Linked DNA regions of Homo sapiens. The protein of the gene in region 3 interacts with the protein of the main gene of each other region in a pairwise test. Each region holds a gene or a part of one and is shown on either strand. Other genes may lie near its edges.

Region 1 (3,533 bases), on a different chromosome or scaffold from region 3:
GAAGAATCAGTATCATTAAAATGACCATACTACTCAAAGAAATCTGCAGATGCAATTCCTATAAAAATACTAACATTGTTTTTCACAATATTAGAAAAAACAATCCTAAAATACCCAAGGAACCAGAAAAGAGCCTGAATGGCCAAAGCAATGGTAAGCAAAAAGAACAATACTTGAGGCATCAAATTACTTGACTTCAAATTGTACTATAAGGCTATAACAACCAAAACTATTATAAAAAGAGACACACAGGTCAATGAAACAGCTTACAGAACCCAAATTAAAGACACATGCCTACAGGCAAATGATCTTCTTCAAAGTCAACAAAAACATACACTAGTGGAAGAACACCCTATTCTATACATGATACTTGGGAGAATTGGGTAACCATATACAGTAGAATGACACTGGACCCATATCTCTCACCATATACAAAAATCAACTTAAGATGGATTAAAGACCTGAAAGTATAAAGACCTGAAAGATCTGAAACTATAAAGATTCTAGAAGAAAACCTAGGAAAAACTCTTCTGGACATTGGCCTAAGGCAAAGAATTCATGCCTAGGACCTCAAAAGGAAAGCTACAAAAATGAAAATAGACAAATGGGACTTAATTAAAATAAAAAGCTTCTACACAGCAAATAAATAATCAACAGAGAAAACAGACAATCTACAGAACAGGAGAAAATATCTGCAGACTATGCATCTTACAAAAAGCTAATTTGTAGACTCTACAAAGAACTCAACAAGAAAAAAATAACCTTTTTAAAAAATGGGCAAAGGGCATGAACACATATTTTGCAAAAGATGACATACAAATGGCCAAGAAACATTTAAAAAGTTAGAAATGCAAATAAAAGCGATGAAATACCATTTCACACCAGTCAGAATGGCTATTACTCAGGTGTCAAAAAAATCAATAACAGATGTTGGCAAGGATGCAGATAAAAGGGAATGCTCACAGACTGTTGTTGGGAGTGTAAACTAGTACAGCTGCTATGGAAAACAATATGGAGACTTCTCAAAGAACTAATAGAAATACCATTTGATCCAGTGATCCCACTACTGGGGATCTACGCAAAGGGAAAGAAATCATTATATCAAAAAGATACCTGTACTCAAATATTTATTGCAGGACTACTCACAATAGCAAAGACATAAAATCAATCTAAGTGCCCATCAACGGATGATTGGATAAAGTAATCCACATCATGGAATACTACTCAGCTATAAAAAAAGAATGAATTCATGTTTTTTTGTAGCAACATGGATAGAACTGGAGGTAACTATCTTAAGTGAAATAACTCAGAAAGAGCAAGTCAAATATCACATATTCTCACTTACAGGTGGGAGCTGAAAAATATGTACACAGGGGCATAGAGAGTGGAATAATAACATTGGAGACTCAGAAAGGTGGGAGGATGGGAGTGGGTGAGGGATGAGAAATTACCTCATGGGTGCTTATGTGCACTATTCAGGTGGTGTAACAACACTGCACTTGTACTAAATCTATAAATAATAACAATATGAGAAACTGGGTGTCAGGTATATGAAAATACTCCATCCTAGCTTAACAATTTTTCTGTAAATCTAAAACTAGTCTGAAATAAACTTTTACTTAAAAATGAAACTGGGCCAGGTGCAGTGGCTCACACTTGCAGTCCCAGCAATTTGGGAGGCCAAGATGGGAGGATTGCTTAAGCCCAGGAGTTTGAGACCAGCCTGGGCAATAGCAAGACCCCGACTCTACAAAATGAAAGAAAAACTTATCCAGGCATGGTCTATAGTGCCAGCTACTTGGGAGGTTGAGGCAGGAGGATCATTTGAGCCCAGGAGTTCGTGGCTGCGGTATGCTGTGATCACGCCACTGTATGCTAGCCTGGGCAACAGAGCAAGATCTGTACTCAAAAATAAGTAAAAAATAATAACAAAAATGAAAATAAAACTGACCGAAGTGAGGGAGAAAAGCAAACTCAGAATAGTCACACATGCCAACAATGACAGAAAAGAGGACTAAAACTGTCATTATAGCTGTTATTTCATATACTAAAAAAGTTGCATAGAGACATGGAAGATATAAAAAAGATCCAAAACAAATGTCTAGTGATAAAACATGTCTGAGATGAAAAACACACTAGACGGAATTACTGGCAGATTAGATATTGAAAAAGAAAATATTAATGAAATTATAAACAAAGTAATTGGAATATCCAAAATAAAATGCAGAAAGAAAAAATAACCTTAAAAAATTAAAAGTGCAGCAGTGGACAACTTTAAGCCAGTCAATGTGTATACTGGAGTCCCCAAAGAAAGAATGGGGGGACAGAAAAAGTATCTGAAGAATAGCCAAAAAGCTCCAAATTCTATGAAAATTGTAAACCCACTGATCCACAAGCACAACTTCAGAATACAAGAAACAAATAAAAAATATTTTTTAAATAAAGCTGAAAGAAGTCATTGTCAGCCAACTCACATTATAAGAAATGCTAAAGTCCTTTAGACAAAAGAAAAATGATAGATGGAAATACACCAGAAATGGTAATTATCTGAGTAAACAGATCTTTATTATTATTTAAAAGAAAAGTATTTAAAGAGAAAGTATTTTTTTAAATATATTCTAGGGTTTAAAATTTATTAAAAGACAATAATGAAAAGGCCAGAAGGAAAGAAATGAAAGTATACTATTGTAAGGTTCTCATACTGTATTTGAAATAAAAGATCATCTCCACAGTGACATGACCCATATCACTGAAACTGAATTCATATTCACTCATTCATTCATTCATCAACTGTATTGAGTACTGTATAAAAGTCATTAACCCTCTGTAGAAGTTATGGGCTTCAGCGAGGGTGTGTTAACAGATTAGACTAAGCAAACAGGTGGATTATTTGAGTCTAGGTAAAATGCAAGGGTTCACTCTTCTTATGGGACTCAGTAGGAATAATATCTCCCAAGCACAGGAGGATCAGAAATCATAGCAAAAGATTTTGGGTTGAACCTGTGCCAGGAAAAACTGCATAAATAAAAATGGGCTCCACTGGACAAAAATTTACCTTTCAAATCAAACCTGATACCACAATTGAGACCCTAGAAACACAACCACTATTTTCATCCTGTGCCATTGCTGCTGAAGCTCTCACGGGGCCCTGCAAGTTCCTGGTTCAACTGCTCTTCCACTACTGCCACCTCATCTGGGCTCCACGACACCCTGAACTGTCAGGCTGCCACTGGGTGTTCAAACCATCCCCACACTAAGGTAAGACAGAATGGTTTCTCTTTCTTCCCAATACCAATAAAAATCCCCATTCTACAAATAATTGATTAATGCTATTTATTTAGACCTTAAAAATCCCATCAAATAGATAAATTCAATAAGGCTTTATTAAATAACCACCTACAGTAAACCTGCAGTGAGGGTGTATATCAAAAAGAATCTCCCTTCCTGGCCTAACTGTTGGACATTTTCCTTTTTCTATTCCAAACAAGTTTGTATAGCTTCCCCATGTACACACTATTATGGACTAAATGTTT
Region 2 (4,019 bases), on a different chromosome or scaffold from region 3:
ATAATACATCATATTCTGAAATGATAGAACTCTTAAAATACAAAAGTGACATTCTGACAACCCAGAAGAGGCTGAACTTAAATCAAATGGAAACATCCTTTGGCTTCCCCTTTGAAACTTGCCTCAGTGGCATTTGGCAGTACTAGACTAACTTCCTACCCCGTACTTTTCAGTCATTTCCTTTAAGGGGTCTCAAAGAAATTATGAAACCTGCAAAGCCAGACTTTGCCAGTCAACACTAACTTCTGCCTGTGGATTCCAGTGACTGAGCCAAGACAGTGTTAGTAGCTTCCTTGAAGTACAAATGTTCCTGGTAAATCTGGCTTGAAAATACCACAGAAAAAGTTCAACATAACCAACTGTAAGAACATTTAAATGCCAATCTTAAGGAAAGAATGGATTCCCTCCCCCTACAAATTCCACTGAGGCAAATTTCCAGCTTACTTTTTAGAAGCAAATAAATACTACTACTATTACATTACAGCACTTCTACCATGCTAATAAAAAGCTAGGTGATAGTTTCCTCTTTAAAACCTGTACATTCACTACATGAGACACTATAACCACTTCACTACATGCAACTTTCCATACATATAACTGTTCTACTTTCCAATTATTTATTTTAAACTCAAGATCTCTTTTAACATACTATAGAAAGGGAACAGGTTAGAAGGCTTTGGGAAAAAAAATAAAATAACGAACATCTCACTTTCATTTTCTGATGCAACCACCAAAATCTAAAATGTAAGGACAACTATATAGTACAAAATTAAATTTAAGAGAATTTAGAGTAAGTGAAACTATTCACTATTACTACAGTTCTGATTATTATTTACCTGAGGAAAGAGCTAGTAGAAGTGATGCTTGGTTTAAATTTTTGGTGCTTTCCAGTATGGTACCGAAGAAATAAAAACTCACAAAATAAATAAGGTCCTCAGAGTTAAAGACTTTTCCCCAGAAGAGGTTGTTGGTATAAATAAAAAAAACAAGGAATTCATATGCTGTATTTGTACACTAAGAACAATGTTTTGAGACATGTAAATCTTATCACTCAGAAAATATTTTGTTGGCTATAAAGAAAACGCATCGTAAACTGAAACAGAACTGAATAAAGTGAACCTTTACCACAATTAAAATATTTTAAATTCACCCTATTATGAAAACTTAATAATAAATTCATTTATCCTTAAGTGTAAGAGTAATACATATTCGACACAGTAAAGGACAATGCCATTTCTGAAACAAAAGATCATGTGCAATGAAAACAAAGTAACATTTTGCAGAGTAAGAAAAAGTAAAGAGCCTGTGAACCGAAACAGATGACCTTTTCTTATATATAAAGCTTCAGTTTTTAGCACAACCAGCACCTTATGAATAAAGTTCTCAATAACATTTGTTGATATACTGTTTGATGACTAAACGACAGGAATATTGTTGGTGCTGTTAAAACCAAGGCACATTTCCTTGTGTGTAGTGATTAAAATCTGTTAAATGTACATTTTTAAAAAACCTCTGCCCTCTGTCCCCTTCTTGCTCTCTTGCCTCTAACAGACCTGCACGTACAAAAATAAAAGTAGATGGTGACGTGAGTTTATGATTTACATTAATTTCCCTACTCGGAGCATTTTTCACTAAGTCTTTAGAGGTTTTAAGATTCAAACACTATGTAAGAAGAATTATGGTTTGAACTACGTAACAATTACCTAGACATCTTTTGGACTTCAGTTAACCTGTAAGTAAAATGAGCATCTTTAACTTTTCCACGGGGCTTTGGAGAACGGGTTCTTCCTCATAAACGCTTTCATATACTCAGACACGAGGCGCGGTAGAAGATCAAGCGTATCCATCAATTTGAGAGCTTTTCACGACCTCAGTTTACCCACTTAGGGAAACGGGCGTATTAACTTGTTTCCTAGGGGACCCGGGGGTGAAATTAATTAGCGTGTTTAAAATGCTCTGAGATCCAAAGATGAAAGGAAATGTGAAAGACGCGCAGAGATGATGACAACAATCATAACAATAAAAAGAATGACTAACTTGAAGTCTGCGTTATGTAAGGGAGGAAAAGAAGTTATCAGATCCGCACAAACAAAAGGGAAACCCACCGCCCCTTTTGTTTCTCCCATTTCCCTCTCCTCCCCGCCACCCGCAGAGCTCCCCTCTCGCAGCCGGAGCGCGCGGCCAGCCAGGCGCGGGGCTCGGAGTTGGCCGCCGCGCGCCCCGCTCCCGGGCGGAGGGGGAGGCCGCGTAGGGCCGGTTCCTGACAAAGGCGCTTCCTCGAGCCAGGGCGCGGGATGCAGGCGCCGCAAACTCCGCTCCCCGCCGCAGCGGGGGCGCGCAGGCGGGCGGGGAGAGCCGGCTGCTGGCCGCCGGGGAAGCCGCCGAGGAAGTTGCGCGCCCGCCCTCCCCGCGCCCCTCGGCGGCCCCGCCGCCATCCATCCCGCGGCGCCCCGCGGTCACACTTACCGGACAATTGCTGGTGGCCGGGATCCCAGAGCGGCCCCCGAGACCCGAGGCGAGAGGGTGAAGTGTTGTGCGCGGGGAGCGCGAGCAGACAGCCCGCCGTTCCGCCGCTGCCCTCCGCGCCCGCCAGCCGAGCCCAGCGAGGGGAAGTTGACCACGGAGCCGAGCGCTGAGGAGCCGCGGACGCAGGGAGAGGCGTTGGGGCTGCTTTGTGGTGCGCTCCCGGAGGGCTGGGGACCAATTCGACCGCACCGCGGGACTAGGGCTGCTGCCGCTGCTGCTAGTGGAGGCGGCGGCGGCGCCCCCCGACGGTCCCTCCGCCTCACACCGCCTCTGGGTCACTGACATACACTCGCAAGGAGGGGAGGGGTCTAGCCGGGGGGCGGGGCCTGAGGGAGGGGACCGGGCAGGGCCACAGCGGAAGGCGGTGTCGCCGCACCGAGAAGGCTCTTGGGAATTGTAGTTCTCCGGTTGAAGAAAAAAGGGATTCATTGTTGTCCAGCACCCTACCAGGCTCGCTCTGCACTGAGCATGCTCGAGGGCGAGGTTTGGACCGCCCCCTCCCACCGTTACCATGGTCACCGACACACTTAGCGAACGTGTTCAGTGCTGCTGTTGGCTGAACAAGGACGGTCTTGTATTATGGTGTTGTTGGGGATCCAACCCTTAGACGGTCCTTCCTACTTTTCTCCACCTCCAACTCCTAGCCTTACCAGTCATAAGTACCCAGTGAGGTCTGACTTTCTCTCCATATTTCAGTCTTCCCTGCTGCGTAATTTATCTTCCACAAACCCTAAATCACAAATACCTCTGTCCCTCACTTCCCTCAATTGAATCTTCTCCGGCTAAATTCAATTTTCTTTACCTAAGACTTGTCGAAATGTAGTTGTTTCCAGTAATTGAACAATTAGGTTATAAAACTTAGGAATATCACCACTATCAAAGTCCCGTAATTAATTACTTTGCTCAGTTAGTCACATCTAACTTTAAGATTAGCAAAGGCAAAGTACAGAATTAAGACCCCTATATTTTACTTGATTACTATAAAAGAATCCGGGTTCGTTCATTTTAAGGCCTACAATTTTTAAGACATACAAATTTCATAAAGTATACGTTCAAAAGACAAGTTGAAAATTGTTTATGTGTATTGGCCAACTTTAGTTTGGTAATAAGAGAAGTCTGAACCAAGGTATGAGTATGTTGTTGGGCTGGTCAGCTAAGTCTACACCCATCTTGGGCACCCAGGTGTGGAAAGGTGGTAGGGAGGAGGGTGGAGAAAGGCAGGACACATTACTGGCTCTCCGGAGAGCTAAAGGCAACGCGTCCTGAGCGCTTTTGTTTTCCTTCTCCACCTACCTAGAACCCCACACCCTGGAAGAAAAAGATTAATGCTTAGGAATCAGACACACTTTTGGAGCAAGGCTTTCAGAGAGTCTCAAGATCAGAAATCCTTATATCTACAGACTATATAATTATACACTCATTCAAAAAATGCTTGTTGAGTGTCTACTTGTGCTAGGCACTGTTTTGAGCCCCAGAAATAGAGATACAAAAAT
Region 3 (3,533 bases):
CTCTGCCTTGGGGGCTTAATGATTCAGCGTGGAATGAGTTTTGTTGTTAGGGTGGACAGAAAAACCCTATGGCAAAGTCACTGATTTCCCTGAGTGTGCCCTTTGGAATCCCACAAGTCTTATCCCCCATTACCCCTCCACTCAACCTGACATGGCCCTATGGGAATGGAAGCGCTTGCCTCCATCTATCTTAATCTAATTACCTAGTCCTTAGAGGAATGTACTCCATAAAAATTCAGAGATGTTTAACTGGAATTGGCCATTTCTTCTGAGCTGAGAACTGTGGCTTTTTAGGAGGATTATTCAGAAACGAACAGCAATATTAATTAGTTTAGTTCCCACAGCATGGTTTCTTTTGAGAAGCATGCTGGTTTTTTGTTTTTTTTCATTTTTTTTTTTTTTTTCTATTCTGAGGAAAGGTCCTTTTTCTGAGTTGGTCATATGGACACCACCTGCGGGGGCTGCCTACCCACCCCACTGCTGGGCTCCCTCAGGACCCATTCCTCCTGTTCTCTCATGTCTCCTTTCGCAGCTTCAAAAGCAGCTCTGTTCTTGGTTCTGTGCCCCACCTTGTTCTAATCTCAACTGTCTTTGTTCACTGTGGGCACAAAGGGCTAGGAAGGGGCAGTGTCACTGCTGTCACTTCTTTATGGGGCAAGAAGCAGTCTGGATGCTTTCTTTTGTGCACAGTTTAGCTTCTTTGTTCATCGGACTTTGTTTGCCTTCTCAGCAATCTCATTGTTACATGATTAGAAATGGAAAGAGGTCATTTTGACTGTCTTATCGAAAGGGATAGGGAAAATGACCGTATTTATCGTATCTCTTTACCTCTGTGGATTCTTTCCTGGGCCTTTCCTATTGATATTTGGTTTATTTTGGGGACGTCAACATTGCTCAGCCCACCCATTCTTACAGAAAGCTTTAAGGGAAGAAAGCCTTAAGGGAACTCTTCTCTGTATGTTTCACATACTAATCTTCCCCTTCCTTTATGCTTTTTTTTTTTTAAATAAAAAAAAAAAAACTCATTACTATAGGGAATTCAATTGGCAGCCTTTTTCTAGGTATTTATAATCCACGTCTGAGAATCCCAAAGGAAAAGAGACCTATATCAGAAAATTTAGCTTAAAGTATTTATTTGGACAACCTTTGCATGTTTATTTTCTAAAGGTAGGAAATTTATTTCTACAGATTTACCTTCAGCTTTTTTAAAAAATTGGCATTGTTATGTCATTAACAGCTATATACATGTACTTTTTTCAAAACAACATTTACGGCCTAACTTGAATTTTTTCTGTTATTCATTAGTGTATACATTTTTCTCCTTTTGAAATATGTAGTTCTAGTTTATTGGATATTGAAAAAAAAATCTGTGATTTATCATTGTAATTTAAGTTCACTATCTCTTTTCCAGCAATTATTCTTTTTTCTTTTTTGTACAGTAGTAGAAAACGAAATCCAAGCAAGCATAGACCAGATATTCAGCCGTCTAGAACGTCTGGAGATTTTGTCCAGCAAGGAGCCCCCTAACAAAAGGCAAAATGCCAGACTGTAAGTGCTGACCTCTGACATGGCTCTGATACTCCAGGCCCATCAAGACAGGCTTTTCTCCCTGGGGGAGGTGATAGAATATTCTGAAAACCAACGTACATGTTGAAAAACTATGACTATGCAAAGAAAAAGCCCCCTCAAAGGGCACAATTCTATCTGAGTGATGCCGCTCAAAATAAATAGCCTGTGAGGTTTGTGACTCAGAAACCTTGTGACCCCTTACCTCTTTGGTGTCATTTTGAAATTTTGCCTCCAGTTCTGTTTTTTGACTAGATCCATAGCCACCTGAAGCCTAATGTTGCCATGGAGTTTTGTTCTGCTCTTTGGTTCCTGCTGGGTTCTTCTTGGGTTGAAATGAAAAATCACTTCAATCAGTCCACCCATAATGAAATGCTGATCTAATGTTTGATACTCCAGCATGAAATTAAAATGAAACCACCCTTGCCACCTCCACCCCCAGCGCCTGTTTCCAAAAGTTTTATGAAACTTTGTGGATGCTTTACCTCAAAGATGCCCTTGGGCTTCTTCCAGGAGAGCCATATAATCCATAGAAGGTCAAGAAGAGGTCAGTGAGCCTGCTTCCTGTCCCCTGTTCTCTGTCATGCATCCAGAATCAGAGCAACAGATTCTGAAGTCAAGCTGCTGGAATCTTGTGTGCTACCATCTCACTTTAACCACAAGTTTCTTCTTGACTTTCAACATCGTTGATCAAAATTAGATCTTGTGGTGAGGGGGTATAGTGTGGGGTGGTGTAGGGAGAAGTAAGGAAACGCCGTCTTTCCTCAGTACAAAGCCTGGCCCCCTCAGATTCTGCTGCCCTGAGTTCCTGGAATTTAATCTCTCTCTCCATCAATTCCAGTCGGGTTGACCAGTTAAAGTATGATGTCCAGCACCTGCAGACTGCGCTCAGAAACTTCCAGCATCGGCGCCATGCAAGGGAGCAGCAGGAGAGACAGCGAGAAGAGCTTCTGTCTCGAACCTTCACCACTAACGTAAGCCAGGCCCGTGGTGAGGGTCGGCCTGCACTTGACAGATCGTGGGGGCTGGAGTTCAGATCTCTGAGCGCCATCTGTTTTGGGGGTGTCTGAAGAAGACTGATGATGAGGAAACCAACTGGAAATGACAGGAACTTTGTGCATTGCCACAGAGACTAGACCTAGACAGAGAATCCCTTTTTCTAAGACAAAAACCTGAAGAGGAAGCAGTTAAATTGAAGGGGAATAGGCAGAGGTGAAAATTACCTGGTTGGGCTGGTCTGAGACAGAAAGGTGGAAGTTCACATGGTGGAAACGTTTTTCTGATCAGATAGAGACAGATGATTAGAACTTAGGCCATTTGTAGAGAAGGCAGCATTTCAAAGCTGCCTGCGGGCAGTTGCCATTGTGCCGAGTATGTGTGTGGCTCCAGTGTCAGGTGCATTAAGATGTTTTTGCCCCTAGTCTGAGCAGCAATTTGGAGGAATTTGTTAACAGATGTTTAGGGTTAGATGGACTGCTTGCCTGAGTCTGTCTGAAAGTGTGTTGGTTTGCATGTTTGATTTTTCAGAACCCATTGTCCCTGCCCTTTAGTCTTAACCAGATCATTTCCTGCACATGGCTGTAGAACATACTGGCCTTTTCTGTGTCCTGCATAATATATTCCACTAAATGAAGTGTGCTTTGGCTTTTTGTATTTTGTTTTTTTACAGAGGATTATTTTCTAAAGAGATGTTAGCTTTCTAAGCCAGTTGTTAAAATTCACATCATTTCCTGCTTTGTAGATGTTTAACCCTCAATGCTGCATCCTTGCTTTGCAATAAATTTTCCCAAGTGTTTCAGGCTGTGCCAACATAGTTTTTGCTTCCCCAGACTAAGCAGTCAAGTTACAGTGTTTAACAGTTCAAAAATTTAATGAACTATAAGACACACTAAAAGATGTTTGGATTTTAGATCGTTATAATGTAGTATTCAGGCCTTTTTTAGGCCAAGGATGATCGCTTGGGATTA
Region 4 (3,533 bases), on a different chromosome or scaffold from region 3:
TGGTGGCGCCCACCTGCAATCCCAGCTACTCAGAAGGCTGAGACAGGAGAATCACTTGAACCCAGGAGGTGGAGGTTGCCGTGAGCTGAGATCGTGCCATTGCACTCCAGCCTGGGCGACAGAGGGAGACTTCGTCTCAAACAAAACAAAACAAAACAAAACAAAAAAAAGAGATACTCAAACTGTATTATCAAATAATTAATGATGTAACCTTTCCAGAAGTTGAAAGTGAGCCGCTTACTCCTAATATTATAGTCATCCCTGGGTCTTTGATTACTAGAAAGGCTGAGATACAAAGGACTCTGTAGTATTATAAGATTTACAGTATGTTATACTAGTAATAAGTAACATAAGAGGTATTATGGGTACTCTGAAATGTAGCCACAAATTTGGTGTTAGAGACCTGAGTTCAAGTGCCAGATTTGCCATTTCTAAGCTATATGGCACATTACTTTTCAGAATTTCATGAATGAAATAGGATAATAACAATAGCTACTCTAAAGGGATATAATGAAAATTAAATAAGGTTTCAATGAGCTGGGATCATGCCACTGCAGTCTAGCCTGGGTTGACAGCATGAGGCTGTTTAAAAAAAAAAAAAAAAATTAACCATAGCATTTTTCTGCTTAAAATCCTTATAGAGAATCAAGTCTCAATTTGGCAGCCCCCACTTCTGCCACTCCCAGGAAGCCTGCCATGCCGAGGATTCCTTCCATGCCGAGTACTCCTTCAGCCCTTCACAACCATCCCCGGCTACTTTTTATACAGGCTCCTCTACCAGAACTTCTCTTTATCAGCTCTGTAGTGCCTGTATCAAATGTGTTGGGCACACAGTAGGCTTCTTTACTGAAAGAAACAACAAACATTTTCTGAACCCCATTTGCTGAGTAAATACTAAGTAAAATTAAAATACATAACTTTAGATTGAGAAAGTACTATAATGAAGCTAATTTATATAAATCTTCACATCAAAATAGTTCATATTAAAGAATGTAATTATATCCATATATATCAAATTGGCTGAAGTTTTCTGAAAAAGCTTACATGCTCATGGTTTCAAGGTACTAATTAACAGAAAGACTTTCAAAACTGAAATAGGGGTCTCAGCAGCTCGGGCAGCGGGAGGAGTGCCAGTAGCCAGGCAGCCCAGCTTCGCGAAGGCTCTCAGCTCCGTGGCCCACAGGTGCCCAGCAAGTGCCCCTCCTGCCGCCAAGATGCCCAAGAGGAAGGTCAGTTCAGCCGAAGGGGTGGCGAAGCAAGAGCCCAAGAGGAGATCTGCGCACTTGTCAGCTAAACCTGCTCCTGCAAAAGTGGAAATGAAGCCAAAGAGGCATCAGGAAAGGCTAAATCTTCAGATTAAAAAAAAAAAAAAAATGCAAACAAATGGGAAAAGGGGAGCATAGGGAAAACAGGCCAAAGTGGCTAACCAAGAAACTAAATAAGATTTACCTGCAGAAAACGAAGAAACTAAAACCGAGGAGACTCCAACCTTTGATGAAGCAGGAGAGAAAGAAGCCAAGTCTGATTAATATCATATACCATGTCTTATCAGTAGTCCCTGTCTCCCTTCTTGTACAATCCAGGGTATTTTTATCAACTGCTTTGTAAGTGCAAGTCTTTTAGTAGCTCTAGAAACATTTTAAGTAGCAGGAACTCCCACCTCATTCCATTGTTAAGTTTTTTCTGAGGTGAAATAATTCTCTGGTTGTTTATTTTTTGGTGAAACCAGAGAATAGTATGGGATATTGAATTACAGGAAGTTTTGACTGTCTTGGATGTCAGCTTAACATTCCACAGATGGGGGCTTAGTTTTTATATACTGTAATACAAAATATACTAAATGGCAATACAGAGTCAGAATCCTGCATTTAATGTCTTGAACATTTTAAATTACTTCTATTGCCATGTTTTTTTTTTTTTTTCACAGAATTGTTTCCTAAAGAAAACCACTCCTTGATCATGGCTCTCCCTGTCAGAACTGTGTACACTATAACATCTTTGGTCACAGAAGTCCTGATTTCCTAATAACTGTGTTAATGTGCTGTGAAAGATTGAAAATTTGGGTATATAGTGTACATGCTATTAAACTGTGAATTGGTAGAACGTGTACAGCTTATCAAACACTTGTAGATACTGGCTCTTGATAATCCTCTTAAGAAAAATTTGCCTCCAAATGTTAAGTTGGAATGTCACTATAATAACTATTTAAAAAAGAGGCCGGGTGCAGTGGTTCACACCTATAATCACAGCACTTTGGGTGGCCAAGGTGGGAGAATTACTTGAGCCCAGGAGATTGAGACATGCCTGGTCAACATGGTGAGACCTTGTCTCTACAAATTAAAAAAAAAAATTAGCCAGGCATCGTGGCATGCACCTCCCAGTTACTTGGGAGGCTGAAGTGGGAGGATCGGTTGAGCCCGGGCAGTCAAGGCTGCAGTGAGCCGTGATCACTCCTCTGCACTCCAGCCTAGGCAATAGAGAGAGACCGTTTCAGAAAAAGGAATTACAATAGAGGTTTTCTAGATTTTTGGTATGTATGTTAAGAATTGTGTACAATTTGAAATGTCTGTATACTTATTCTCAACACGACAAATAAAATCTCCATTACAAAAGAAAAAACTGAAATAATTCTTAGTAAAAACAAAAAAAAATCAAAGGTAGAGATTAAGGGATCCAAAGGTCTGTTTTACATCACTTTAGCTATCTGCCGAAACAAGTGAAGACTTCCATACTCCAGAAGCTAATAATTAATATTGTTCAAGTCAACACAATGTATATAATAGATCTCCTAAGTGAGAATATGAGAATATCTTATCTCAGAATTCCTTTTTATATAACGGATATACAAATTAATATATCAGAAATACTGGTCAGGCACAATGGCTTATGCCTGTAATCCCAGTACTTTGGGAGGCCAAGACAGGAGGACTGTTTGAGCCCAGGAGTTTGAGACCAACCTGGGCAATATGGTGAGATCCTGTCTCTATTTAAAAAAAAAAAAAATCAGAAATATAAGCATCATGGCATTAGGGAGGATTGAACTTAGAAAACATTTAAATTCTGAATCTTTCCTGAATGACATTATCACAATCATTTGAACACCTACAAGTCTAAACTTCCTCATCTTTTAACTAAGGAAGACAATACTTTCAATATGATAATTAGATAAAAGCTATTCCTTTTTTTTTAGAGACGGAGTCTCATTCTGTCACCCAGGCTGGAGTGTGCAGTGGCGAGATCTCCACTCACTGCAACCTCTGCCTCCTGGGTGCAAGCAATTCTCCTGCCTCAGCCTCCCAAGTAGCTGGGATTACAGGAGTCTGCCACCATGCCTGGCTAATTTTTTGTATTTTTAGTAGAGACAGGGTTTCACTATGTTGGCCAGGCTCATCTCGAACTCCTGACCTCAACTGATCCATCCACCACGGCCACCCAAAGTGCAGGGATTACAGGTGCGAGCCATCATGCCTGGCCCATAAAAGCTGTTTCTAACTTCAAAAATATTATGCAAGTCAAAGAAAACATTTCGCTAA

The links. Proteins that work in one complex are often made in the same cells at the same time.
Region 1: the proteins of GOSR2 (region 3) and MARCHF8 interact in binary tests that used the Homo sapiens proteins (3 or more experiments, as listed by UniProt).
Region 2: the proteins of GOSR2 (region 3) and PELI1 interact in binary tests that used the Homo sapiens proteins (3 or more experiments, as listed by UniProt).
Region 4: the proteins of GOSR2 (region 3) and ARL13B interact in binary tests that used the Homo sapiens proteins (3 or more experiments, as listed by UniProt).

What each region holds. Positions count from the first base shown.
Region 1 is NC_000010.11:45,528,866-45,532,398, forward strand, and holds part of MARCHF8 (E3 ubiquitin-protein ligase MARCHF8), read right to left. Parts: intron 1-3,533. UniProt on the Homo sapiens protein: E3 ubiquitin-protein ligase that plays several important roles in innate immunity and adaptive immunity.
Region 2 is NC_000002.12:64,141,615-64,145,633, forward strand, and holds the start of PELI1 (E3 ubiquitin-protein ligase pellino homolog 1), read right to left. Parts: upstream 2,807-4,019; 5' UTR 2,467-2,806; intron 1,913-2,466; exon of another isoform or gene 1,704-1,912; intron 1-1,703. UniProt on the Homo sapiens protein: E3 ubiquitin ligase catalyzing the covalent attachment of ubiquitin moieties onto substrate proteins. Involved in the TLR and IL-1 signaling pathways via interaction with the complex containing IRAK kinases and TRAF6.
Region 3 is NC_000017.11:46,929,660-46,933,192, forward strand, and holds part of GOSR2 (Golgi SNAP receptor complex member 2), read left to right. Parts: intron 1-1,439; coding exon 1,440-1,548; intron 1,549-2,407; coding exon 2,408-2,540; intron 2,541-3,533. UniProt on the Homo sapiens protein: Involved in transport of proteins from the cis/medial-Golgi to the trans-Golgi network.
Region 4 is NC_000003.12:93,986,628-93,990,160, reverse strand, and holds part of ARL13B (ADP-ribosylation factor-like protein 13B), read right to left. Parts: intron 2,216-3,533; exon of another isoform or gene 1,099-2,215; intron 1-1,098. UniProt on the Homo sapiens protein: Cilium-specific protein required to control the microtubule-based, ciliary axoneme structure. May act by maintaining the association between IFT subcomplexes A and B. Binds GTP but is not able to hydrolyze fit; the GTPase activity remains unclear.